Linked DNA regions of Homo sapiens. The protein of the gene in region 1 interacts with the protein of each later gene in a biochemical or structural test. Each region holds a gene or a part of one and is shown in the gene's direction. Other genes may lie near its edges.

Region 1 (7,068 bases):
GTAGTCTTGCAGTATATTTTATTTTTAAAGGATACTTAACGAAAACATTAGATTATTTGCCTTTTGTTATTTACATAAAGCATCTTAAAAATGTTGCATATGATAGAAATGTCATGCCATCCTATATGTAGAAAATGTCTCGCTCAGTAACATCACTTAAAACACAAATGATACTTTTGGAGGACAATTAGTATTTATTAGTATTCTTGGCCTTAGACACCAATTTGGGTTTCACAGGACTTGATCTTTTCCTCAGCCGGTCAGGAGCGATATCTGGATGTGCACGAAAGCCAAGAAGAGAAGAATTTCATGGCTTAGGGCTAACATGGGGTAACGGTCATGCCGATGGTTAACCCTAGAGCTCCTGAAAGTAAAGATGATGCCAAAGGGCCCATTTCCTCTTGCTCACAATTTGTTTAAGAAGAAAGTACAGAAATATGCTGGGTAAAATAATTACTTGACTTTTACTAGATGGCACCTACACTGATTTTGAAAAAGCCTGTGTTTTATAGAGCACTCTTGGTAACAGTCTCAGATGTGATGCAGTGACTGTCTGCCATGTTTTTGTACAGAGCATGGAAAAGGCCCTTGAATCATAGGTGTAAATGTCCCTTAGAGGAGGGCCTCCTGCTGATTGCCTGAGTTATATTCCCCCTGGACCAATATAGGGGCATCTCAGCTGAAGTACCCTATTCCTTCTTGAGCCAAAAGAATGCCCACAGGGACATGGTTGCTGAGGTAACCAGAGGCAGGCATTCCATTCTTTAATTTTGCTTGAGCATCCTTGAGTTAGTGAAATAGAATTGGTTTTCTTTTTATATTTTTAAAAGAACTTTATTCAGAAAATTGTAAAATAGTATCCCATAGTTTTTGAGCATGCATGTGTTCTAGAGTTAGTTATGGGGCCCTTGTCATTACTAGAGTATATTAATATTTTTAATACTTGTGCTTTTTTCTCATTGGTTTTGTAGGTTAGTATTTATTTACCAGTCTTGAAGACTATGAAGAGTGTTGTGGAAAAAATGAAAAACATCAGCAATCACCTTGTAAGTCACAACTTCTTTAGAAAAGAACTCTGAAGTATTTGGTGGGACGGCGTGGGTTCTCCAGCTCACCCTGCAGCAGTCCATGCAGGTGGGCACCTCCTAACCGAGTTCCCACTTATGAGGACCTGGCCTGGTGCTGAGAACCTGCAGATTGCTAGTTGGATTTAGAAACCTATTCCAATACTTTTCAACTCTAATTCTTTGAGGAAAGCTTTTATATTTGCCTTTAATCTGCCTGTTTTTCCTCTTATATTTTGTATGAAACATTGTATCTTTCTTTTTTTTTTTTTTTTTTGAGACAGAGTCTCACTCTGTCGCCCAGGCTGGAGTGCAATGGCGCCATCTCACCTCACTGTAAGCTCCGCCTCCCGGGTTCATGCCATTCTCCCACCTCAGCCTCCCGAGTAGCTGGGACTACAGGCGCCTGCCACCATGCCTGGCTAATTTTTTGTTTCGTATTTTTAGTACAGACGGGGTTTCACCGTGTTAGCCAGGATGGTCTCGATCTCCTGACCTCGTGGTCCGCCCGCCTAGGCCTCCCAAAGTACTGGGATTACAGGCGTGAGCCACCGCGCCCGGCTGGAACATTGTATCTTTTACCTGCTAACGTGCCCGTATTTTTCTGTGAGTCACTGATATGACTGACAGTGAGTTTGGAGTTTCCTGTCTGCGTGCCAAGTGTCTTTCAGTGAGCCAGGGACAAAGATATGCCACACCATAGCAGCCTTTATTCCAAGCACACCTCACACCAAGCTAGGGGGCACTTTTATATTTCTGTTTATTTTCTGTTTATTTTGTGGAAGTCTCCTATGGCCACATGGCTCGAAATGTTACAGTGTGTGACAGTGGTGGGAAATGTGTAGGTTATCCTCATTCATACCTGGGGTTATTGTGAATTCTTCCTTCACTCACTGCCCCTCCCTCCTCCCCCTGCTCCCTCCTATCCTGCTCCAAAAAACACCCTTGGTTATGTCCCTGAATCTTCTAAAAACCACTGTCCACCTGATGAAGCATAAACTTTTGATCTTGACAGTGTACCAGGCCACCTTTATAGCCACATCTCTGTTGTATTGCCACACCCTCCCTGCAGAACGAGGCTGGGTTCTGGTATTCCCCCACAATGCCTCTTCTTTTTTGTTCAGTTTCTTTGCCATTTGACACATGGCTTCTTCTCTCCATCTCCCTGGAAGGCACTTAGCCATTCTCATGCTTCATCACAGACCTTTCCCCACCACCCCTCTGGAAGCTCCTCCATGGAGCTGAGCTGTCCAGTGTACATGGTAAATCACCTGCTAAGATCTCTGAAGGTCTCGTGAACCACCAGCTTCTTGATAAAGGAAACCCCATCTTAATCATCTTTGTGTCCCAGCTGCCCAGTGTGGGATTGCCACTCAGTAGGCAGCAATAAGTGTTGCATGGATCTGGAACAAAATTTAGCTTCAAGAGGTCTTTGAAATCACAAAAGTATTTTGAAGCCTAGAAAATGTACATTTGACTGTTTTTTTCTAGAGTTCTGCACACTAAGAGCAATGCTGTCATTGGACCTGGGTAACTCAAAGCTTTTCCTTCATAACTTAATCTATAAAATCTGTTTTCCATGAAGCAGTGTGCACTGTGCTGACGTTGGTGTCACCTGTGACTGCAGTGATGCTGATCCAGTTGTCAGGCTGGCTTCATCTGGGGATACCCTGGGGACTTCCAGAGAAATTCAGAGAGGCCCAGGAGAGAAAAGACAGGGCTGTTAATTGAAGGATGGCATTTGTTTGTTCTTTCTGTTCAATGAAAATGAGTCAGCAAGGTAGAGAGGTAGAAGGGTAGCTTAGAATCATCAGAGGTGTTTTGTTTTCTCTTTTTTGGAGTTTAAAAAAACATAGAAATATTGTGGAGAGGCTACTACGATCTGGAATTACTAAATGGAAAGTTATCAAGTTACTGTAGCAAAGTACATAATGAGGTCTTCCTGGGTATCCAGAATTCTGTATCTGAATATTACAGGCAGTAGAATTAAGGAAAATGGGTAGACTTAACACACTAAAAATGCCCACCTTCCCATTAGAGATGCCCAGTTACTTCCTTTCATTAAATGCGAGGTGTGACTGATGGGGTGGGTTGTATGTGACTCATGCAGGAGCAGAAAAAGAAGCAAGAACTGGAGGGAATTGACATCATGTTCTAAGACATTGCTTCTAAGTTCTACCATGCGTGTGAATCCCCTGGAATCTGGTTAAAGTGCAGGTTCTGATTTGGGAGGTCTGAGCTGGAGCCTGAGGCTCTGTTTCTGACCAGCTCCTGGGAGATGTCGATGCTGCCTGTCTTCAGACCACATCATGTAGCAGTACTTTGTGATGTGTGCCTGTATTACTCCGTTTTCACGCTGCTAAAAAGATATTACCTGAGACCAGGTAATTTATAAACAAAAGAGGTTTAATTGACTCACAGTCCTGTATAGCTGAGGAGGCCTCAGGAAACTTACAGTCATGACAGAAGGCAAAGGGGAAGCAAGGCACGTCTTAACATGGCAGCTGGAGAGAGAAGAACACAGGAAAAACTGCCATTTTTAAAACCATCAGATCTCATGAGAACTCCCTCACTATCAAGAGAACAGCATGGGAAAAGCTGCCCCCATGATCCAGTCACCTACCACCAGGCCCCTTCTCAGCACTTGGGGATTACAATTCGAGATGAGATTTGGGTGGGGTTGCTGAGCCAAAACAAACCACATCATTGCCATACTATATTGTACTTCAAATGTTATCTGAGAAACGGCTCTGCAGGGTCACCTAATGATAGAAACCAGAGTCTATGTTTAGGAGTCATGATATGGAAGAGGGGAGTCATTGGAGCCACATACCTGGGTTCAGCTCCAGGCTGCGCTGTGCAGTGAGTACCCTAGTGCTGGATACTACCCCAAATGGGGATAACAGTGCAGCTATGACAGGGGCTTCGTCAGTTTTTAAAAATTTAGAGATAATTTTTACTAGGTGCCCAGTATAGTCAGCATTCTATAAACAATAGTTGACTATTTTAAGGAAATCATTGAAAGATCTTACCCTGATACTTAAGAAATCAAGTGTGTTGTTGTGTATAATATCCCAAATAACTGAATCTTAAAATAGACATGAGTGACCAGTGTTCAGAGAATTAGTTGTTTGTTAGTTTCTTCAGTAAGTATTGACTTAAGGCCACCATGTGCTAGGCACCAGGTGTTAATGGTTAGGAGGGAGTTGGAATCTAATGTTCTGTTACTGAGATTCTTAGGAATTTGAAGAAAACACAAGAGAACATTTAAGCCTGAAGTGCATCTAGGCCCATTGCAAGTTGCATTTTTAAATAAGTATTTATTTATTTATATCTAAAACCATTGCTTTTCAAAACAATGGGAATTTACAGATCTTGGGTGTGTGGTTGTTTGGAACAAATGAGCTAAGGTCATGTGTTAGCCTTAGCCCCACTAAGCAGTCTAGCATATTCACAAAGATTGTTTTATATATTTTATTTCAGTCAACTATTGTTCCAGATTGTAGGAAAACGGGTTAGGAAATATAACAATATATTTTTTTGGATTAATGAAAGAAAAGGGTTGAAAATGAGTATTTCTCATTCAAAGTAGATTATACAACAGGTAAGTTTGGGGCACTATTTTTCTATTAATGTGAAAAGCTCAGAAATAAGAGCTCACCCAAATTAGAAAAACTTTGTTTCTGGAATGAAAACTATTCAGAGTTCACCAATTTTAAGGAATAAGAACAAGGAACACTAAATTGTATTCAGTAAACATGAACACTGATACAGAGCCGTGCAGACAGAGTGCCTTCTCTGTTTTCTTTCTGTGACACTGTGAGGATGGAATGGCCCTAAATAAGACCAGTTGCTAGGTGGCACTTTTCTAGTACTAGATGGCAAAATGCTATCCAGCAGACTACACACTGGCTTTCCAGAGACCTCCTAGGCTTTAACATTGGGCAGATATCAACATCAAAAAGAGAAATAACAGGTACTGGTTCTTTTAGGAGGAAATTTCATTGTAGGTGCGGGAGTGGACCAGGATAGGTTAGCAAAACCTCAAACCATACTGTGGCATATGCTTCACTTCTAGGTTCCATCCAATTAAAAGAACTGATTGGTTGTTGGGGTGGGTAGAGGAGCTTCAAAGGAAAGGAGTCCCTTGTGACCTGTGGAGACAGTCCCCGGGCAGCAAGAGCAGGAGTAGAAGAGGGGTGCCCGATGGTATATGAGGGGATGGCAGAAGTCTGGTAGCCTGGGCGTGTGGAGTTTGGCTCAGCCATCCTCAGTCCTGGTAACCCAACAGCAGCCCCAGACCCTTCTGGATTTGGACATTTCATTTTCCAACATGTGAGTTTATTTTCTAAATAAATGGCTATGTTCTCATGAGATTCTGAAGGCCTTATAGTCATATTAAATGTGTGTTTATGACAAATGGTTGATTTATATTTTATAAAAATAAGACACTGATTTCCACATTCTTCTCATTTTCCCCCTTCCTGTTTTGTAATGGTTATATTATGTCTACATCATCAGAGCATAAAATTTTATTACTACACGTTATTCTGTCCTCTTCATTCCTGTTGTTTAGTTTTGGTTCTAAAGGTCAAAATAAGGCTCACACTGTTTATGCTGTAACTTCTCCAATGATTTTTTTGGTTATTAAAAGCCTATTCTCTAGCATATCACTCAAGAAGGACTCACAGGAATAGGATTTCATTGGTTATCATGTGTTTATAATGTCAGTTTGGCTCACTGCACTGCATTGTCTGCTGGTGTATATTATTGCTATCAAAAAGAATGACTCCATTCTGATTTTGTTTCACAGCTTGGATTTATTCATTTGAAAGTGGGGACTAAATACCCTGGGGATTTTTCCCATTTTTCTTTCAATCCAATTGTCTTGACCATCCGGGGTCAGTTTTCCCAGGTGTGTGGTGTGTCCTTTCAATATGTGGGCCGAACTCTTCATTCACTTCAGGAAAGTTTTGAGCTGTAGTTGATAGCATTTCTTTTCCAGTGCTTTGTTTTTCTTCTGGGACTCAGAGGGCTTGGATCTTCTCCACTGTCTTTATTATTTTCTGTCAGATCCTTTTAACTCTTTGTTTCTGTTTGGTAAATTTTATCTTTCTCCTTTCCATCCCAGTTTCTCTTACTATTCTCTCTGTGGTGCCTATTTGCTCTAGTCTTCCTTCTAAACTAGTTTCTGTTTCTGAAATTTTTCCTTATGTTTCTAATTACTTCCTGTGCTGTCAGCTGTGTTTTATGTGCGTGCTCTCTGGTCATCTCATGTCTGAGCTTCCCTAATTCTGATTTATGTTGTTGTGTCATAGCGTCTATTATTGTTCATTTCTCTTTTTTTTTTTTTTTTTTTTTTGAGACAGAGTCTCGCTCTTTCACCCAGGCTGGAGTGCAGTGGCGCAATCTCGGCTCACTGCAAGTTCCGCCTCCCGGGTTCATGCCATTCTCCTGCCTCAGCCTCCCGAGTAGCTGGGACTACAGGCGCCCGCCACCACGCCCGGCTAATTTTTTGTATTTTTAGTAGAGACGGGGTTTCACCGTGTTAGCCAGGATGGTCTTGATCTCCTGACCTCGTGATCCGCCCGCCTCGGCCTCCCAAAGTGCTGGGATTACAAGCGAGAGCCACCGCGCCCGGCTGGTTTTTCTGGTTCTTTTAGGAGGAAGTTTCATTGTAGGAGTGAAAGTGGACCAAAATAGTTTTCTAATTTAATGACTCTAGAATTCTCTATTCTTTGTAACCACAAAATATTAAAACATGCATCCTCACCACATCCCCAGGACTTTCTGAGATCTGTCCCTCTTTTTCCTTCATTTAAAGTTTCATTCCCTTTTTTTTGCCCAAGGTGCCCATTCTGCTTAGTTGAGGCTCTTACTTCCCGTGGTTCCTTCTCAGTGCAGGACTCTCTCCTGCTGTGAGGGAGTTCTCATCAGCTCCACCCAGCCCTCCCTAGAGCCCTGCCCTTGTGCTGCTGTAGTCTCCTGGCAAGTCCTCTCGGAG
Region 2 (2,870 bases), on another chromosome or scaffold:
ATGCCTGTAATCCCAGCACTTTGGAAGGCCGGGGTGGGTGGATCACCTGAGGTCAAGAGTTCAAGGTCAGCCTGGTCAACATGGTAAAATCCTGTCTCTACTAAAAATACAAAAATTAACTGGTCGTGGTGGTGCGCACCTATATTCCCAGCTACACGGGAAGCTTAGGCAGCAGAATCGCTTGCATCAGGGAGTCGGAGGTTGCAGTGAGCAGAGACCTGCCATTGCACTCCAGCCTGGGCGACAAGAGCAAAACTCTGTCTCCAAAAAAAAAAAAAAAAAAAAAATACCTGGGCGTGGTGGCAGGCGCCTGTAGTCCCAGCTACTCGGGAAGCTGAAGCAGGAGAATCACTTGAACTGGGAGACAGAGGTTGCAATGAGCCGAGATGGTGCCGCTGCATTCCAGCCTAGACGTCGGAGTGAGACTCCATCCCAGGGGGAAGAAAAAAAGTTATATCCATATGGTGTGATGAAGTGAAAGAGACATCGTCCCCTTTCCTACACATGAGGAAGCTGAAGGCCGGAGAGATGGAATAATTTGCCCAAAGCTTCCTGTTATTATGCCATTAGACAGTTATTTTAGTTTTGTGTTCATTACTACAGTAGACCCCGATTTAAGAGTCTGGTCATCAGATACAGTTTCCTCTCTTAGGTTAGTACTTAGTTAGGCTCACCTCACTTTTTTTTTTTTTTTAAGGTATCACCTGATTTTGATACAGCAGCAGGAAGCTTGTTCCCAGCCTACCAGAAACACCAAAACCGGGCGAGACACTCAAGTCGAAAACCTACCACCTCCAAGTTTCCACATCTAACTTTTGAGAGTCCGCAATCTTCCAGTTCAGAGACATTGGGGATCCCCTTAATCCGAGAGTGCCCCAGTGAATCAGAAAAGGATGTTTCCAGAAGACCCTTAGTTCCAGTGCTCAGTCCCCAAAGCTGTGGGAACATGTCAGTGCAGGCACTTCAGAGCTTACCTTATGTGTTCATTCCACCTGATATCCAGACCCCAGAGTCATCGTCTGTGAAGGAAGAACTCATTCCCCAAGATCAGAAGGAAAACAGCCTTCTAAGCTGCACTCTTCACACTGGCACTCCTAATAGCCCAGAGCCTGGACCTGTTCTGGTTAAAGACACCCCCGAGGACAAGTATGGAATAAAGGTCACATGGAGGAGACGACAGCACCTGCTTGCTTACCTCAGGGAGAGAGGGAAGCTGAGCAGAAGCCAATTCCTTGTGAAAAGCTGACTGCCATCAGTAATCTCAATAGAAAAGAGATATGTTTTCTGGAGTCATAAAGGAATTCAATTCCTAGGGTTTTTGTTTTTGTTTTTGAGATGTAATATTGCTCTGTTGCCCAGGCTGGAGTGCAGTGGTATGATCTCACCTTACTGCAACCACCACTTCCTGGGTTCAAGCGATTCTCCTGCCTCAGCCTCCCCAGTAGCTGGGATTACAGGCACCAGCCACCATGCCTGGCTAATTTTTTTGTATTTTTAGTAGAGATGTGGTTTCTCCATGTTGGCCAGGCTGGTCTCAAAATCCTGACCTCAAGTCATCTGCTGGCCTTGACCTCACAAAGTGCTGGCCCAGCCGAGATTTGTTTTCTAAGATACTTTGTGTCATGAACAGTTCAGTTTAGTGTCATGAACTATTCACTTCATATTTTTCTTGTATTAACTGTTTAAATTTTTAAAATATCTTGTAGTAACTCTTTAAAATGTATGTAAGTAAATGGCTGCAGAAAGTTTTTTTAGAGAATCCTGCTTCCATCAGTAATACAGCAATATTACCCCATCCACTAATGGTCTTTGTTTCCTTAACCACTACTCATTAATCCTTAATCACCTCATTCAAACTAATTCATTCTGCATTTTTGAGTACCAACTCTTGTCAGGCTCAGTGGCAGCTTCTACGACCTGATGGATGGAAAAAAATCAAACTCTGTGACTCTATGGTTGACTGCCACCTCTGCAACCTTGACTCATCTGCTGAAAAGGCAAGAAGAAGAAAGGGCAGCAAGCCCTGTTTTAGGGACTACATAAGATGAGGGGAGATAAGGGGGACATAGATGAGTTCTTTAGGATTGCGTGTGTTTTGAGTTTTTGTTTCTAACTGAAGAAATCTGTCAATATTAAATAGGGTGGGAAAATGGTTTCTTAGAATAACTGTTCAACTGTGTGTAAATAAGGAAAGTTTTCAATGAGTATTACTTATTGTAATTAATGCAGAAGGACTTCCCCAGTCAACCGAATGTCTCGGCCTTTTACTCAGACAAGTAGCATCTCATTAAACCCATTCATTTAGCATTCATTCAGCTGGACCTACTGTGTCAGGTCCAGCCCCAACTAGATCAAGCAGGGATTACTGTATATTTTACAGATGGGAGTTTGATGCAGAGAATGAACCATGCACAGGTCACACAGTGAGTGCACGCTGACCCAGGCAGTGTAACGGTCCACTCTCAGCGTGTGCCTCCTAAAGTACTAACTTGTAGGTTCAAAACCAATGTGGAAACAACTTTGACCTTAGAACGCCATAAAGCCATTTGTGCAGTGACTTGTCAGGACTCAGGATGTTTTGTAGGGACTATAATGTGCATGTCGGTAGGGAGAAAGGGACTGACATTTGGGGACGGGATTTATTGGAGACAAGAGTACACATTTAGACAGGGGCTCTCACGGTGGGCTATGGATGTTTGAGGAAGGCCCACAGGAGGTAGAAAGGTAGATGGAAAGAGTCTCCAGGACGGGCCCACGCCTGTAATCCCAGCACTTTCGGAGGCTGAGGCGGGTGGATCATTTGAGGTCGGGAGTTAAGAGGCCAGTCTGGCCAACATGGTGAAACCCTATCTCTACTAAAAATACGAAAA
Region 3 (7,000 bases), on another chromosome or scaffold:
GGCTGGTTATAAACTCCTGACCTCAGGTGATCTACCCTCCTCGGCCTCCCAAAGTGCTGGGTTTACAGGTGTGAGCCACTGTGCCCGGCCTTGTCACCTCATAAAGGTCCTACCTCTCAACACTTGCATTGGGGATTTAGTTTTCAACACGTGAACTTTGGGGGACACATTCAAACCATAGCAGTGGCAAAAAAAAAAAGCCCTAGCCCCAACAAAACAAAAATACCACCATCAATAAAAATCAAATATAGGCCTGGGTGCAGTGGCTCACATCTGTAATCCTAGCACTTGGGGAAACTGAGATGGGCAGATCTCTTGAGCTCAGAAGTTCAAGACCAGCCTGGCCAACATGGCAAAACCCTGTCTAGACAAAAATTACAAAAATTAGCCAGGCATTGGGGCTCGCTCCTGTAGTCCCAGCTACTTGGGAGGCTGAGGTGGGAGGATCACTTGAGATCTCCCACCTCAGAAGTAACAGTGAACCAAGATCACACTACTGCACTCCAACCTGGGTGACAGAGGGAGACCCTGTCTCCCCACACACACACACACACACACACACACAAACTAATGAAAAAATAAGTAAACAGGCAAATAAAAATAAACTAAAAGAGAATCTTAATTAGATTGGAGGGGATCTTCAGGTGATTAAATACTGAAGGAAAGTAGGGGCACAAATTGTATTTGGGGACATCTTAACCCTGTATGGGTTGATAGACCTTTCAAGTCTGTCTACTAGAAAACTCCCTCAAATCTTATTTCAGAGAAAGTATGGGCTGACTTGACAGGACTGATCAGTTTTATCAGTGACACATCTTATCATTTAAACAGTGCAAGAGTTAATGGTTGGTTATTAAGCACTCAGTAAAGGTTGGTGAACATGTACATACAGGACTAGATCTCTCCTCTGTAATCCACTCTAAATAAATACTTCAGTCTGGTTACAAAATACTTAATACTGTACTGAAGATTTTTGTACAGCTGATCATTTGGATTTACATTTGGGTAATTTTATCATTACATCTCATGCTTCATTATTCTTTCAGCTATTCCCTTCAGCAAGCTCAAGCTTTTTATACGTTTCCATTTCAACAACTGATGGCTGAAGCTCCTAATATGGCAGTTGTGAATGAACAGCAAATGCCAGAAGAAGTTCCAGCCCCAGCTCCTGCTCAGGAACCAGTGCAAGGTAGTTTCACCATGAGAGCTTAGAAAGTTCAACATCGGATCAGCCAGCTTATTTGAGAAAGGGTTTCATGGTGAATTTTAGCTCTATTTTAGTGTTAAAAAGTCAAATCCACTTTTTAAGTACTTAGTATGTGCTAAGCACTGATAGGTTCTGGGGAATAAAAGAACATGGGTCCTGCCCAAAAATATCTCATAATCTAGTAGAGAAAAGTAATAAGTAAATACACGTTACAGCTCAGCACAGTTTGTAGTGAAGAGGGGCATAGAATGAATGCCCTGAAAGCTTATGGGGTTGGCTTCTAACTCAGACTGATGGCTCAGAGGCTGCTTCCCAGAGCAGAGAAATAACACCAGGGCTCTGAAACTCCAACAATGTGGAGGCTTCATCCCGATAAAGATCAGAGTAGGGACATGTCCAGGCTGAGGGAGCTATACAGGCTGGGTACAGACACACACAAGCATGGCATGGCCAGAAACAGAGCAATTCTGTGTCCTTGGAGTCTGGGATATAACAAGGAAATGGTGAGAGGTGAGGCTGGATGGGGACAGTTGAAACTTGTTTTTTAATCCCAAAGAATTTATATTCTATCATGAAGGCAATAGGGAGCTGTTGAGAGAATGTAAGCAAGGGATGACTTACTTGACTGGTGCTTTACAAATTAGCCTGGAAATATTAGAGAAGATAGATTGGTTGGTAGACAACAAGTCGGAACTTGGAGGCAGGCCGGGCACAGTGGCTCATACCTGTAATCCCTGCACTTTGGAAGGCTGAGGCGGGTAGATCACCTGAGGTCAGGAGTTCATGACCAGCCTGGCGAACATGGCAAAACCCTGCCTCACACAAATTAGCCGGGCATGGTGGCGCACACCTGTGATTCCAGCTACTGGGGAGGCTGAGGCACGAGAATTGCTTGAATCCTGGAGGCGGAGGCTGAGAGGCTGCAGTGAGCCAAGATTGCACCACTGCACTCCAGCTGGGCAATAGTGCGAGACTCTGTCTCAAAAACAAAAACAAAAACAAAAACAAAAACAAAACTTGGAGTCAAGGAGTGGATTAGATGGATTAGAGACACTGTTTGAATAATCTAGGGGAGCACTGAGGAGGACCTGAAGGGGTGGAGAAAGAATTAGGAAACACTTAGGAGGTAGAATTACCTAGCCATGGCTAATGGGTTTCATGTGTTTGGGGGGAGCATGGCAGGATAGTGGGGGAGAAAGGGGAGTCCAGAAGTAACTACCAGGTTTCTGGCATTGGCATTTGGTTGGAGGAGGTGCCACTCACCAAGACAGAGAATTAGAAGAAAATAATAGGTTCCAGGGGTGGGAGAGTGGTTGGAGAGAAGTTAATGATTTTCTCCAGTGTAACAGTATTTTATGAGAAATGTGCTCAGGGTTTTGGTTTATGATTGCAGGAACACATCTAATAACTCTGCCTCCGCATTAGGACTTCCCCAGCTACATGCCAGTGATGGTGGATCTGTTGGCATAGGGAGTGGCTAAGACAATGTGAGGCAGAAGAGAGGAGGGACTGACTGCCTGTATCCTGCGAGGCTTGATTGGGGAAACGCCAAAGAGGAGTAGAATAGGGTAGAAGCCTGAGTAGTTAGGAGAAATGTTAAATAATTAAGGGTAAGAAAATCAGGGCTTCCTGTTGGGTAACTATAGGTCAGTGGTTTTCAATCAAGGGTGATTTTGCCCTCCCAAGGGACATTTGACATTGTCTGAAGACACTTTTGATGATCAAGACTGGCAGGTTACTACTGGCATCTAGTGGGTAGAGATCAGGGGTGCTATTAAACATTCTGTAATGTGCAGTACAGCCACCCACAACAAAAAATTATGCAACCTAAAATGTCAATAGTGTGGAGGCTGAGAAACTGCTTTACGTCCTGAGGTTGGATCCCTCCTCTTGCCTTTTGAAAAATACTGCCAGCCCAGAGATGTCATCCTGGGCACCCCTAAATTCCCCTCTTCAACTATGTATGGAACAGAATATACACCTCATCTCTAAAACAAGCCCACAAGCCATTGTGTTTTTCTTTTTTCTTTCTTTTTTTTTTTTGGACAGAGTCTTGCTCTGTTGCCCAGGCTGGAATGCAGAGGCATGATCTCAGCTCACTGCAACCTCCACCTCTTGGGTTCAAGCAATTCTCCTGCCTCAGCTTCCCGAGTAGTTGGAATTACAGGTGCACGACACCATGCCTGGCTAATTTTTGTATTTTTAGTAAAGACGGGGGTTTCACCATGTTGGCCAGGCTGGTCTTGAACTCCTGACGTCAGGTGATCTGCCTGCCTTGGCCTCCCAAAGTGCTGGGATTACAGACATGAGCCACCATACCTGGCCCATTTGTGGTTTTCTACTGGGGAAGTTGAGTTAAAATGTTTCCCTTCCTTCCTGTTTCTCTATTTTTCTGTTCTTATTTAATTATTTATGTATTTACATTTAGAATTTATATAAAATGATATGTAGATACTTTGTATCCTTGAGGAGGTTAAGATGCCAAGTAATACTGTGTCGAAAATAATAGTCTATGATTATTCTTCCCACGAACAGCTAGCAGGGGAAGGAGAGTGGCATGGGGGGTTGCACGAACCCAGTTCTAGGGAGAAAGAAAGGGAAGATATTGCAGAGGAGACTCATGTTGGGACTGTAAGAGCTTAATTTTGGGGAGACAGGTACAAAAGGTGCTAGTTGGGTAACTTTTCTGGGAAAGCTGCTAAAGTTTCTAAGTTAAGATTTTCTGCATTTCTGGAAATTATTTGTATTTCAGAGGCTCCAAAAGGAAGAAAAAGAAAACCCAGAACAACAGAACCAAAACAACCAGTGGAACCCAAAAAACCTGTTGAGTCAAAAAAATCTGGCAAGTCTGCAAAATCAAAAGAAAAACAAGAAAAAATTACAGACACATTTAAAGTAAAAAGAAAAGTAGACCGTTTTAATGGTGTTTCAGAAGCTGAACTTCTGACCAAGACTCTCCCCGATATTTTGACCTTCAATCTGGACATTGTCATTGTAAGATCTTTGTCCTCGTTGGATTTTATAAGTAGTATTGGGGGATCAGCTTTACTTAACAGTTGTCCTTGCAAATAGCATTTTGCTGAAAAGGACCATTTCTAAGAATCCTTTTGGTGGTAAATGGTGTCAGCTTCATGAGGTTGTGTTATATGAGAGTGTTTAAGAGGGTGGGCTCCAAATTTAGACTGTCTGGGTTCAAATCCTGTCACAAGTATAATCTTGGATAAGTCTTATTAACCTTTCTAAACACCGGTTTTCTCATTGATAAACCAGGGGTGATAATACCACCCCCCGATAGGGTTGCAAGTAAATGAGAGAATCCATGTGAATCACTTCAACTGAATGATGCCTGTGGAGACCTGATACATGGCAGCACTAATTTTAAGCTCTTATTTTTCTCAGTAACTGTAAGAAACATCAGCATGTGAACAATTGTGTAGGTGATGTGGAGCGAGCTTCTTGTTGAAAGTTGAGAATCAGAATTGTGGCTGGACATGGGCTCAGATTGATTGTTCCAGGACCTGTCTTTCCAGACTCAAAGCAGCCCAGTTGGTGAGGGTGCGAGGCCTGGGATCATAAAGGAGTCAAACTGGTTTTTTAAAATAACAGCAAAACTTTTAAAATAAAGAAAATCTCTTTCCCATATATGAAATACTTTGTTCAGATCAAGAGTAGTAATTGATAAATGATATTGCTTATGATGCTGAATTAAATTTGTATTTTAATCAACTCAATTTTGTCCACCACTCCTCCATAGAAACGCTAAGGCTTAGGTCCTGCTTTTTAAGATGAAATGTCTAATTGTTTTGTTTTATAGATTGGCATAAACCCGGGACTAATGGCTGCTTACAAAGGGCATCATTACCCTGGACCTGGAAACCATTTTTGTAAGTGGTTACCTTTTAAATTAATTTACTTTTAAATTAGGTATCTTTGTTAACAGGTTTTTTCAGAAAAACCAATTGTGTTTTTAAAAAGAAAGAGACTGTAAATACACATTCGTGTTTCATGTTCTGTGTGTGTGTCTGTACGTGAAAATAAGAGAGTTTGAAATGATATGTTACTGTTAACATTTTAGTCTATGAGAATGGAGGGATGTGAATAAGAGTACTTTCTCTTTTGTTTGAATTGTTTCTAATGAGTTGTACTACTTTTTTTTTTTTTTTTTTTTTTTTTTGAGATGGAGTTTCGCTCTTTTTGCGCAGACTGGAGTGCAATGGCGCGATCTCGGCTCACCACAATCTCCACCTCCCAGGTTCAAGTGATTCTCCTGCCTCAGCCTCCCTAGTAGCTGGGATTACAGGCATGTACCACCACGCCTGGTTAATTTTGTATTTTTAGTAGAGACGGGGTGTCTCCATGTTGGTCAGGCTGGTCTCGAACTCCCGGCCTCAGGTGATCTGCCCACCTCAGCCTCCCAAAGTGCTGGGATTACAGGCGTGAGCTACAACGCCCAGCCAAGTTGTATTACTTTTTAAAAATGATTTTTTAAAAGTTGTTATCTATAGGCATAGTAACGATAGTATAGTACATCTTTGTGGCAGTGCAGACATAATACTAACTTTCCCAGATTTCTGGTGATTATTTTCTAGCAGAGCATAAAATAGTAGTAAAGACTCATATTTTTAGAGTAAGTTTTAAAACCAAGTGTTGGCTGGATCTGGTGGCTCACACCTGTAATCCCAACACTTTGGGAGGCCAAAGCAGGAGGATCACTTGAGGCCAGGAGTTTGAGACTAGCCTGTACAACATACCAAGATCTCATTTCTACAAAAAAATAAATAAAAAATTAGCTGAGTGCTGTGGTGCACACCTGTAGTTCCAGCTACTACGGAGGCTGGGTTGGGAAAATTGCTTGAGCCTGAGAGGTTGAGGCTGCAGTTAGCCATAATTACTCCACTGCACTCCAGCCTAGGTGACAGAACTAGACCCTGTATCACAAAAACAAACAAGAAAACAAACAAAAAACAAGCGTAACTACTGTTGCATTGCCTTCTCTATATAAGTTGTCTTGTATATAAATCATCTTATTTTATACTGCCTAATAGATCAGTGTATGCAGTATACGCTCAGGAAATTGATTATCTAATAGTAACATTCAAAACATTTAGGGCAACTGATAGTAATGTGGTTTTGGAACTAATAATAACATATTGTCCCTATTATTTTAAAAAATTCCTTTTTAAGGGAAGTTTGGACTTTTGACTTTCTTCACTGTCAAGGTGTTTGAATGTTGTTAGTCTAGTGCTGTATGTTTACGTGTGAGGTGGTGGTATCACCAATTGTAAAGCAAAATAGTCTCAAAGTTTCCTAAACTGAGTTGCTATATATTCTTGGGCAGGCATTTGCCTCAACCCCCTGTGAAAAGGAGATAATAATAGTATCTTGCAAGATAATTATGATGATTAAATCCAAGCGCTGTGGCTCACACCTGTAATCCCAGCAATTTTGGAGGCTGAGGTGGGAAGATCACTTGAGCCCAGGAATTCAAGACCAGCCTGGGCAACATGGTGAAACCCTGTCTACAAACAATACAAAAATTAGCTGGGCGTGGTGGTGTGCATCTGGGGTTCCAGCCACTCAGGAGGCTGAAGTGGGAGGATTGCTTGAGCCTCGGTGGTCGAGGCTGCACTGAGCCATGATCGTGCCACTACACTCTAGCCTGGGTGACAGAGCGAGACCCTGTCTAAAAAAAAATAAATAACTGAATTTTCATTTTACAGGGAAGTGTTTGTTTATGTCAGGGCTCAGTGAGGTCCAGCTGAACCATATGGATGATCACACTCTACCAGGGAA
Region 4 (3,272 bases), on another chromosome or scaffold:
AGGAGAATCACTTGAACCTGTGAGGCGGAGGCTGCAGTGAGCCAAGATCGTGCCTCTGCACTCCAGCCTAGGTGACAAGAGCGAAACTCTGTCTCAAAAAAAAAAAAAAAAAAAATGAAAAAAGGTAGATCTCTTGCATCCAAGTTGGTTCATTTGCTTCCCCTGTCCTTTATACCAGGGGTCAGTAAACTATAGCCACCTGGCCAAACCTGGCCCACTGCCTATTTTATAAATAAAGGTTTGTTGGAAAACAGCCATACTCATTCATTTATGTATTTTCTATGGCTGCTTTTGCACTATAATGGCAGAGTTAAGTAGTTTCAGCACAAATCATCTATCCCACAAAATCTAAAATGTTTCTGTCTGAGCCTTTACAGAAAGTGTGCTGACCTCTGCTTTATGCAGTAGTTGTCATATATTTTACATCTACATCTTATAGCCCCAAATAAGATTTTACTTTAAATAGGTTTTGCTTTTAACAATTCTGTGCATTTTGAGGAAACTAAAATAAAAAATGGTATTTTATAATTACCCTCATGTATACCAGTTTGAGTGTCAGTTTTCCCTGAAGATCTGAGTTTCCATCTGATAACATTTTCCTTCAGCCTGAAGAACTAACTTTAGTTTGGAGTGCAGGTTGATTGGGGATCAATTCTAGCTTTCTGTTGTATGAAATGTCTATTCTACCTTCATTGTTGAAGGACAGTTTTGCAGGATACAGAATTATAGATTGACAGGTTTTTTTCTTCTATTAAAGACTTCACTGTCTGCTGGCCTCCATTGTTTCTGTTGAGAAATCAGTGATGGTCATTTGAATTGTTCCCTTGTATTCAATGTGTCATTTTTGAGACCAGCCACCAGCCTGGGCAACACAGCAAGACCCTTATCTCCCCCTAAAAAAGAAACTCTAGGTTCTATTGTTCCTTTGCTCCTCCAAAGAGTACTGTGTTGTTTAACAGGCAGTTTACTTCATACACTGTGTTTGCGTCCCCAGCCCCCCATTTGCTTGGTTCGTTTATTCTCCAGGCTCTATGGTTGCTTTTAATATATTTTGGTCAGAATTTGTAGCTGTTATCCATGGAAGAATTGAATCAAAAGGCACTTACTTGGTATTTTGTGGTGATTCATTTTCAGGTTGCCCAGTCTGCCATATTGCTAGAAAATTAAGTTTTATTACACTTATAATAAGGAGGAAAAGATCCATTTCTATGTTGGGAAATGGTTGTGGGGGGAAAATGCAAGGGTTTTGGAGTCAGATCAGTTATGAAATTTGGCTTTGCTACCTGCTAGTTATGTGACATTGGTTGTTTTCATTTAACCTTTTTTATTTTATCTCAAAAATGGGGATTAAAAACACCGATATGAAATGTTTGTAAGATCTGAGCTAGTCCCACTCTACCTGAACCATACACGTATTTCTTTGATAAAAGGTGAGACTTTGTCCCACAGGGTCCATTTTGTTTAATTTGCTGGAACCTAGGAATGAATATGCGTTTTCCTTTAAGTTTGTCAGATTCATCCCTGAGAGGTCTGAGATTTAAAGAAAAAATCTATTACCAGATCACGTAAATGTTTGAAATCATTTTAAAAAATCACTTATTTTTCCTTTTATAGGAATCACCTCCTCATGTAGAAAATTACTGTCTACCAGAAGCTATTTCATTTATTCAGAATAATAAGGAACTTGGGACTGGATTATCACAAAAGAGGAAAGCTCCTACAGAAAAAAATAAAATCAAACGACCTAGAGTACACTAATCGCATCTACCCTTTAGTTACCAAACATTAAATGTTTTTAAAAATTGAAAGCCTGAATGTGACTGTGATAGATTTGGGTAGTAATTTAAAGATGAGTACCTGAAGAATTCTGCTTCAGAGTATAATGATGACCCTTCTTGAGTTTTGAACACCTGAAATTGTAATCACTGAAATATTAACTGTTTCTTAATAAAAAGTTACCTGAAATAACAACAAAATACAACTCCTCAGCTAGCTTGCTGTTAAACCACATTGAAGTCTGTTAAAAGATATTTATTTTTCTTGTAAATATCTGAAGCTGTAGCTTAGTGGAAATTTTAGCAAGGTAATGGATTTTGCTTTAAAATGTCTGCCTTACAAATTCATAACAACAAGATTTGTCAGTCAGCATTTATTCATGTTTTCCCTGATTTTTATCTTCTCACCATTTTACCTCTTTTAACAGGAGCCTGAGCACAAGGTTTAATGAGGAAGCTGGGGCTATAAATATGTGTGTATATATGTATATGTATGTTTGTACAAATCTCCATGATGTTTGCCAAGTTTGAATGCGCAAAACTTGGAAAATGTGACAATAAAGAATAAAAGTAGTAACTCAAATTAGTATTAAGATGTGTTTACATAGATAAATTTTTTAAAAGAGCACCCTGGCATCTGTTCTTCTGTTGAAGCAACAAAACATTTATGTAACGTAAAAAATGAATTGCAGGGGCCTGGGTGCGGTGGCTCGTGCCTGTAATCCCAGCACTTTGGGAGGCTGAGGCAGGCGGATCGTCTGAGGTCGGGAGTTTGAGACCAGCCTGACCAACATGGAGAAACCTCATCTGTACTAAAAATACAAAAAATTAGCCCAGTGTGGTGGCACATGCCTGTAATCCCAGCTACTCAGGAGGCTGAGGCAGGAGAATCGCTTGAACCCGGGAGGCGGAGGTTGCGGTGAGCTGAGATCGCGCCATTGCACTCCAGCCTGGGCAACAAGAGCGAAACTCCATCTCAAAAAAAAAAAAAAAAAGAATTGCAGGCCAGGCACGGTGGCTCATGCTTGTAATCCCACCACTTTGGGAGGCCAAGGTGGGTGGACTGCTTGAACCCAGAAGTTCAAGACCAGCCTGGACAACATGGCGAAACCCCATCTCTGCAAAAAATAGCAAAAAATTAGCCGGGCATGCTGTTTGATGCTTGTAGTCCCAGCTACTTGGGAGGCTGAGGCATGAGAATTACTTGAACTCAGGAGGCAGAGGTTGCAGTGAGCTGAAATCATGCCACTGCAACTCCAGCCTGGGTGACAGAATGAGACCCTGTCTCAAAAAAAATAAATGAATTGCTTAACATTTCTGATATTTGTTATTTAGAATATTGCCCTATTAGATTAAAACATACTGTTATTGGAACTCTGTATTGCATTAGCCTTTATTATGCTAAACCTAAACACCTAATACTACATGCGTTACCAGAATTCTCTATAAATACACCTAATTTCATTTTAAGGACAAACTAGAATCCGTTAGGAATGT

Evidence for each region.
Region 2: the proteins of HUS1 (region 1) and RHNO1 form a complex in vitro, tested with the Homo sapiens proteins (2 studies listed by BioGRID).
Region 3: the proteins of HUS1 (region 1) and TDG form a complex in vitro, tested with the Homo sapiens proteins (one study listed by BioGRID).
Region 4: the proteins of HUS1 (region 1) and TOPBP1 form a complex in vitro, tested with the Homo sapiens proteins (one study listed by BioGRID).

Annotation. Positions count from the first base shown.
Region 1 is NC_000007.14:47,969,591-47,976,658, reverse strand, and holds part of HUS1 (checkpoint protein HUS1), read left to right. Parts: intron 1-971; coding exon 972-1,046; intron 1,047-7,068. UniProt on the Homo sapiens protein: Component of the 9-1-1 cell-cycle checkpoint response complex that plays a major role in DNA repair. The 9-1-1 complex is recruited to DNA lesion upon damage by the RAD17-replication factor C (RFC) clamp loader complex.
Region 2 is NC_000012.12:2,887,214-2,890,083, forward strand, and holds the end of RHNO1 (RAD9, HUS1, RAD1-interacting nuclear orphan protein 1), read left to right. Parts: intron 1-697; coding exon 698-1,246; 3' UTR 1,247-2,311; downstream 2,312-2,870. UniProt on the Homo sapiens protein: Involved in microhomology-mediated end-joining (MMEJ) DNA repair by promoting recruitment of polymerase theta (POLQ) to DNA damage sites during mitosis.
Region 3 is NC_000012.12:103,975,872-103,982,871, forward strand, and holds part of TDG (G/T mismatch-specific thymine DNA glycosylase), read left to right. Parts: intron 1-1,046; coding exon 1,047-1,189; intron 1,190-3,959; coding exon 3,960-4,201; intron 4,202-4,283; exon of another isoform or gene 4,284-4,756; intron 4,757-5,021; coding exon 5,022-5,091; intron 5,092-6,927; coding exon 6,928-7,000. UniProt on the Homo sapiens protein: DNA glycosylase that plays a key role in active DNA demethylation: specifically recognizes and binds 5-formylcytosine (5fC) and 5-carboxylcytosine (5caC) in the context of CpG sites and mediates their excision through base-excision repair (BER) to install an unmethylated cytosine.
Region 4 is NC_000003.12:133,599,736-133,603,007, reverse strand, and holds the end of TOPBP1 (DNA topoisomerase 2-binding protein 1), read left to right. Parts: intron 1-1,614; coding exon 1,615-1,758; 3' UTR 1,759-2,770; downstream 2,771-3,272. UniProt on the Homo sapiens protein: Scaffold protein that acts as a key protein-protein adapter in DNA replication and DNA repair. Composed of multiple BRCT domains, which specifically recognize and bind phosphorylated proteins, bringing proteins together into functional combinations.